Homo sapiens: one gene and its partner. The protein of the gene in region 1 interacts with the protein of each later gene in a pairwise test. Each region holds a gene or a part of one and is shown in the gene's direction. Other genes may lie near its edges. The genes, in order: DPPA2 and FGF12.

Region 1 (3,829 bases):
GTTGCCCAGGCTGGAGTGCAATGGCGCGATCTTGGCTCACCACAACCTCCGCCTCCCAGGTTCAAGCGATTCTCCTGCCTCAGCCTCCCTAGTAGCTGGGATTACAGGCATGTGCCACCACACCTGGCTAATTTTGAATTTTTTTTTTTAGTAGAGACAGGGTTCCTCCATATTGGTCAGGCTGGTCTCAAACTCCCAGGTGATCCACCCACCTCGGCCTCCCAAAGTGCTGGGATTACAGGCATGAGCCACCATGCCTGGCCATATGCCCAGGTAATTTTTCTATTTTTAGTAGAGACGGGGTTTTACCATGTTGGCCGGGCTGGTCTCGATCTCCTGACCTCAAGTAATTTGGGCGAATTTGCCTCAGCCTCCCAAAGTTCTGGGATTATAGGTGTGAGCCACCGTGCCCGGCCTTGTTACCTCATTTTTAATATGAGAAATAAAAATTGATATGTGTATATGCAAATTGGGTTGTGAGAAATGTGAAAAGATCTTTGTAAAATTTTTTTTTTGAGACGAGACGGAGTCTTGTTCTGTCGCCCAGGCTGGAGTGCAGTGGCATGATCTTGGCTCACTGCAAACCCTACCTCCCGGGTTCATGCCATTCTCCTGCCTCAGCCTCCCAAGTAGCTGGGACTACAGGCGCCCGCCAGCACGCCCGGCTAAGTTTTTTGTATTTTTTTAGTAGAGACGGGGTTTCACCATGTTAGCCAGGATGGTCTCGATCTCCTGACCTCGTGATCTGCCTACCTCGGCCTCCCAAAGTGCTGGGATTACAGGCGTGAGCCACCGTGCCCGACCCTAGATCTTTGTAAAATTTTAAAATAATCTTGCCAACTTTAAATTATTACTACTTTGGTTCCATTCTTGTCTTAGGTCATCTACTTCAAACAAATGAGCAATTTACAGCTCCACAAAAAGCTAGATGCAAAATACCAGCCCTTCCCTTGCCGACCATTTTGCCTCCCATTAATAAGGTGTGTCGGGACACTTTGCGGGACTGGTGTCAACAACTCGGTTTGAGTACTAATGGCAAGGTTAGTACACTTGGGTGAATATCTGCTGCTGGGAATAATTATGGGAGTCTTTGTCAACTTTTAACTTAATCTCTCTCTTCATTTCCTAAGAAAATCGAAGTTTATCTGAGGCTTCATAGGCATGCTTACCCTGAACAACGGCAAGTGAGTAATGAGTGTGTTGATGGTGTGAAGGTGGGTTCTGATCATGATTCGTCCGGTCCCTACCGTCGCACCATATCTATGTGTTGTACCTCTAAGGCAGGGTTTCTTCACTGTGGCATTATTGATATTTCGGAACAAATAATTTTTTGTTTGTTTTGGGGGCTGCCCTGTACATTGTAGTATGTTTTGCAGCATCCCCAGCCTCTACCAGCTGGATGTCAGTTGCAACCTTTCCTCCCCCTGCACAGTTTCAACAACCCAAAATTTCTCCCAGTGGAGAATTTACAGTTTATGGGAACTAATATTCCGAAACCCTTCCCACATTGACATACATGTTCAGGTCAGTACAAAGAATAATAAAATTGGCCGGGTGTGGTGGCTCATGCCTGTAATCCCAGCACTTTGGGAGGCCGAGGCGGGTGGATTACCTGAGGTCAGGAGTTCGAGACCGGCCTGACCAACATGGAGAAACCCCGTCTTTACTAAAAATGCAAAATTAGCCGGACATGGTGGCACATGCCTATAATCCCAGCTACTAGGGAGGCTGAGGCAGGAGAATAGCTTGAACCTGGGAGGCGGAGGTTGCGGTGAGCCGAGATCGTGCCATTGCACTCCAGCCTGGGCAACAAGAGCGAGACTCCGTCTCAAAAAAAAAAAGAATAATAAAATTGACCCAAAAGTCCTTACAGCCCTAGCGGTTTACTGAATACTCATCGTGAATTTCATTTGCAGGATATGCCTGAAATGTCACAAGAGACCAGATTACAGCGATGTTCGAGGAAACGCAAGGCAGTGACCAAGAGAGCAAGGCTTCAGAGAAGTTATGAGATGAATGAGAGAGCAGAAGAGACCAATACAGTTGAAGTGATAACTTCAGCACCGGGAGCCATGTTGGCATCATGGGCAAGAATTGCTGCAAGAGCTGTTCAGCCTAAGGCTTTGAATTCATGTTCCATTCCTGTTTCTGTTGAGGCCTTTTTGATGCAAGCCTCTGGTAAGATCAACCTTAAAGTGTGAGTCCCACTCCAGAGGACAAGGTTAACTTTTATTAGTCCAAGACTGAAACGTGGTCAAAGGGAAGGCATTTGCTAAAATATCTGAAGATTAGAAATTGGATTCACATGGGACATCTTTCTTCTATCTGTCATATTGATGGATAGTCATGTTGTGTCTGGATGGGTCTCTAAATCAGGTGACTGAGTAGTGGCCCTTTTCCATCACTAAGCATAACCTGATAATCTTGGACCACAGTCTGAGGTCTTCCCCTTTTCTTTCTCTCTTCCTTAAGGCATTTATGACATAGTGAATAAGAGGAATGTGTTGGTTCAAATTCTTGCTTTACCATTTCCTGGATATGTGACATTGGCAAGTTACTTACTTTAAGCCTTAGTATCCTGTTCTTTTTTTTTTTTTTTTTTTTTTGAGATGGAGTTTCGCTCTTGTTGCCCAGGCTGGAGTGCAATGGCGCGATCTTGGCTCACTGCAACCTCTGCCTCCCAGTTTCAAGCAATTCTCCTGCCTCAGCCTCCTGAGTAGCTGGAATTACAGGCACCCACCACCACGCCCAGCTAATTTTTTGTATTTTTAGTAGAGAGGGGGTTTCACTATGTTGGCCAGGCTGGTCTCGAACCCCTGACCTCAGACCATCCACCCACCTCGGCCTCCCAAAGTGTTGGGATTACAGGTGTGAGCCACTGCTCCCGGCCAAGTATCCTGTTATATAAAATGAAGATTTACATGTTTCATAGAATAGTAGTGGCTGAGCTTGGTGGCTCATGCCTGTATGCCTATAACTTTGGGAGGCCGAGGTGGGAGGATTGCTAGAGCTCCTGAGTTAGAGACCAGCCTGGGTAACATGGTGAAATACCCTGTCTACAAAAAATACGAAAAAAAGCCGGGCATGGTGGTGTGTGCCTGTAGTCCCAGCTACTCAGGAGGCTGGGGTGGGAGAGTGGCTTGAGCCCAGAAGGTAGAGGTTGCAGTGAGCTGAGATTGTGCCATGGCACTCTGGCCTGACAGACAGATCCAGACTCTGTCTTTAAAAAAAAAATCTTGGCCGGGCACAGTGGCTCACGCTTTTAATCCCAGCACTTTGAGAGGCCAAGGCACGTGAATCACCTGAGGTCACAGGTTCAAGCAATTTTCTTGCCTCAGCCTCCCGAGTAGCTGGGATTACAGTCATGCGCCACCATGCCTGGCTAATTTTGTATTTTTTTTTTTTCAGTAGAGGCGAGATTTCTCCATGTTGGTCAGGCTGGTCTCGAACTCCCAACCTCAGGTGATCCACCTGCCTTGGCCTCCTAAAGTGCTGGGATTACAGGCGTGAGCTACCGCGCCTGGGGCCCTCTAAGAAATCTTGAGGATAACTTAACTCCACTTTTCTCCAACTCCTGCTCTTCTTTTCTTGCTATTGCTTTTATTTCCAGGGTCTGCTATCTCAAGTCACCTTCCTTTTTGGCTTGAATCCTTTTTTTACTCCCCCATTTTCCCATTTCCAGAAGTATTCTAGATCCTATTTTATTCCAGCTAACTAGTATGGTAGGACACATTATTCATCATACAAGGAAACCAGCCAGAAGGAAGACTTGAAGTTGAAATTGGCATATCCTCTGCTCTTCAAGCTACATTCGTTTATGTGGGGACAG
Region 2 (3,829 bases), about 83 Mb from region 1:
AATCCTAAGCCAAAAGAGCAAAGCTGGAGGCATCACACTACCTGACTTCAAACTATACTACAAGGCTACAGTAACCAAAACAGCATGGTACTGGTACCAAAACAGAGATATAGATCAATGGAACAGAATAGAGCCCTCAGAAATAATGCCGCATACCTACAACTATCTGATCTTTGACAAACCTGAGAAAACCAAGCAATGGGGAAAGGATTCCCCATTTAATAAATGGTGCTGGGAAAACTGGATAGCCATATGTAGGAAGCTGAAACTGGATCCCTTCCTTACACCTTATACAAAAATCAATTCAAGATGGATTAAAGATTTAAACGTTAGACCTAAAACCATAAAAACCCTAGAAGAAAACCTAGGCATTACCATTCAGGACATAGGCATGGGCAAGGACTTCATGTCCAAAACACCAAAAGCAATGGCAACAAAAGCCAAAATTGACAAATGGGATCTAATTAAACTAAAGAGCTTCTGCACAGCAAAAGAAACTACCATCAGAGTGAACAGGCAACCTACAAAATGGGAGAAAATTTTCGCAACCTAGTCATCTGACAAAGGGCTAATATCCAGAATCTACAATGAACTCAAACAAATTTACAAGAAAAAAACAAACAACCCCATCAAAAAGTGGGCGAAGGACATGAACAGACACTTCTCAAAAGAAGACATTTATGCAGCCAAAAAACACATGAAAAAATGCTCATCATCACTGGCCATCAGAGAAATGCAAATCAAAACCACTATGAGATACCATCTCACACCAGTTAGAATGGCAATCATTAAAAAGTCAGGAGACAACAGGTGCTGGAGAGGACGTGGAGAAATAGGAACACTTTTACACTGTTGGTGGGACTGTAAACTAGTTCAACCATTGTGGAAGTCAGTGTGGCGATTCCTCAGGGATCTAGAACTGGAAATACCATTTGACCCAGCCATCCCATTACTGGGTATATACCCAAATGACTATAAATCATGCTGCTATAAAGACACATGCAGACATATGTTTATTGCGGCATTATTCACAATAGCAAAGACTTGGAACCAACCCAAATGTCCAACAATGATAGACTGGATTAAGAAAATGTGGCACATATACACCATGGAATACTATGCAGCCATAAAAAATGATGAGTTCATGTCCTTTGTAGGGACATGGATGAAATTGGAAATCATCATTCTCAGTAAACTATCGCAAGAACAAAAAACCAAACACCGCATATTCTCACTCATAGGTGGGAATTGAACAATGAGATCACATGGACACAGGAAGGGGAATATCACACTCTGGGGACTGTTGTGGGGTGGGGGGAGGGGGGAGGGATAGCATTGGGAGATATACCTAATGCTAGATGACGAGTTAGTGGGTGCAGTGCACCAGCATGGCACATGTATACATATGTATCTAACCTGCACAATGTGCACATGTACCCTAAAACTTAAAGTATAATAATAAAAAAAAGGTTCAAATGCTGCCAGTCATTCCTTACAGAGTTCACTCAGTGAGATTCAGTTTGAATGATTTTTCTTGACTATACTGACTAGTTGTATCCATATCACGTAAACCTAGACATTTTTCTACATAAAGGAATTAATAGATTTTTCTTTATACACTCATGTCGGATGGACGTTAACTCTTCATTTGCTATCATATCACTTAATTAACTAAGTATATTAACTCTTCACTTGCTATCATATTGAGCCTGATATATATGATGTTCACGGTTTAAATTTTCTGGCCTGGAATTCAGCAAGCTCTGACACAAATTAGCCTTATCCTTCTTATTCGTCATCACCTCCCTATTTTACCCAGTCCTGTAGTGTTTATTTTTGCACTTATGTCTCATCTGAATTAGGACTAGCTACATTGTACGTGCTCAGTGGCCACATATGGCTAAATGGATGCTATACTAGGCAGCACAGTCCTAGAATATTTTCATCAGATTTCTCTATCCTTTTCCTCGCCCTGTACCTCCTCAGTTATATCTCAACTCCCTCTTCCTTAATACAGTTCTAAAACTAATGTTTTTTATTATTGGGGAATTGCTGGCTCTTCCTATGCAAATGGAACACCTCTGGCTTTAATAGTCACTTCTTATACCTTATACTCAGGACAATTCAGGACAAGTTGTTTGTTTGTTTGCTTTTTAATTGTGGTAAAATATGATAATACAAAATTTACCATTTTAATCATTTTTAAGTATATGTTTCATTGCCGTTAAGTACATTGACATTGTTGTGCAAACATCACCATCATCCAACTCCAGAACTTTTTCATCTCCCCCAACTGAAACTCTGTACTCATTAAATAAGAAATCCCCATTCTTCCCCAGCCCCTGGCAAGTACAGTTCTATTTTTTGCCTCTGTGAACTTGACTACTCTGGGTATCTCACATAAGTGGAATCAATATTTGGCTCCTTGTAACTGGCTTATTTCACCTAGCAGAATTTCTTCAAGGTTCATTCATGTTGTAGTATGTGTCAGAATTTTGTTTTTTAGGCTGAATAATATTTCATTATATGTATAGGCCACATTATATTTACCCATTCATTTGTCAATGGACATTTTGGTGCTTCCATCTTTTGGCTACAGTGAATAATCCTTCTATGGACATGGATGTACAGATAGATGCTGGGGTCCCTGCTTTCATTTATTTTGAGTGTACACCTACAGTTGGAATTGCTGGATCATATGGTACATCCGTATTTAATTTTTTGAGGAATCACCATTTCATTTTCCACGGTGGCTGAGCCATTTTACATTTAAGTAGAAATGAATAGGGTTTCAATTTCTCCACATACTCACCAACTCTTGTTACTTTCTTTTTTGATTTTGTTTATAACAGCCATATGTTTTCTTTTATTACCATTTCTGAATGACTTTAGGAATATTTAGTGAAGTTAAGGCCAACTTAAATCTTGATTAACATACAGACATAAGAATTCAAACACTGATATGTCAGTCATTTTACATTGTTTGTTGGATAAATTATGGTATTTCTGATTTTATTCAAAACTCTTAACTAGGACCTTGAAACCCTAAATATTCATCCTGGCCCTGCCACTACTCACTCTCTGACTTTATGGAAGTGGCTTAATTTCTTTTATATTTAAAAAAAATGGGGGTGATAATTTCTCACCTACTATATTCACTGGGTTATAATTGTAAAATTTAGTTAATCAATTTAAAATTGCTTTGAATACTCTGAAATGATATTGAGGCTGCTATATACATCATGGTGATTTTCGTTTACGTTTTGCACATATAATGCACTTTAGAGAACACTTACGCCTTGTTTCCTTCCTTAATTTTGTTTCATTATTTACCATGTACATTCAGAATAGCAGTCATTAAGCGTTAATGCAACTATGGATGGTAGTAAGGCAGTTATATTACTGAAGGGAGGTACTTTATTCTTTCTTTGCTTTCTAATTGGATTATGGTCTTTAAATTATATTGTAATTCAGAAATTTGATTGAGACTTATTCCCCTTGATTTGTCAGCTTCTTAGATATATTACTGAATCCTAGGTCCTGTAAATAACAATGAAAATTAATGCTCAAGAAATTACATTTAATCTATTGCTTTGACCAAGGTTTTGCTCTCCGTATTTGTATTTGCATGCAGTTTCTAGAATAACTTTAGTTTGCTTTCTCTGAACATCTTTTTATTTTGGTTAACAGAAGTATAGAAATTCAAATACCTATTTGATTTATTGAGGAGGGGGGCAGTTTTCATCAGTGAACTGGAAAACCTACCTTTTACTTGTCGTTTTCTAACTGGGACATGAACTAGGTTTTCAAAACCGTTAATTTTATTACT

What was found.
Region 2: the proteins of DPPA2 (region 1) and FGF12 interact in a two-hybrid assay, tested with the Homo sapiens proteins (one large-scale study listed by BioGRID).

The regions. Positions count from the first base shown.
Region 1 is NC_000003.12:109,306,381-109,310,209, reverse strand, and holds part of DPPA2 (developmental pluripotency-associated protein 2), read left to right. Parts: intron 1-879; coding exon 880-1,040; intron 1,041-1,130; coding exon 1,131-1,184; intron 1,185-1,916; coding exon 1,917-2,178; intron 2,179-3,829. UniProt on the Homo sapiens protein: Binds to target gene promoters, including NKX2-5 and SYCE1, but not GATA4, and may be involved in the maintenance of the active epigenetic status of these genes.
Region 2 is NC_000003.12:192,146,955-192,150,783, reverse strand, and holds part of FGF12 (fibroblast growth factor 12), read left to right. Parts: intron 1-3,829. UniProt on the Homo sapiens protein: Involved in nervous system development and function. Involved in the positive regulation of voltage-gated sodium channel activity. Promotes neuronal excitability by elevating the voltage dependence of neuronal sodium channel SCN8A fast inactivation.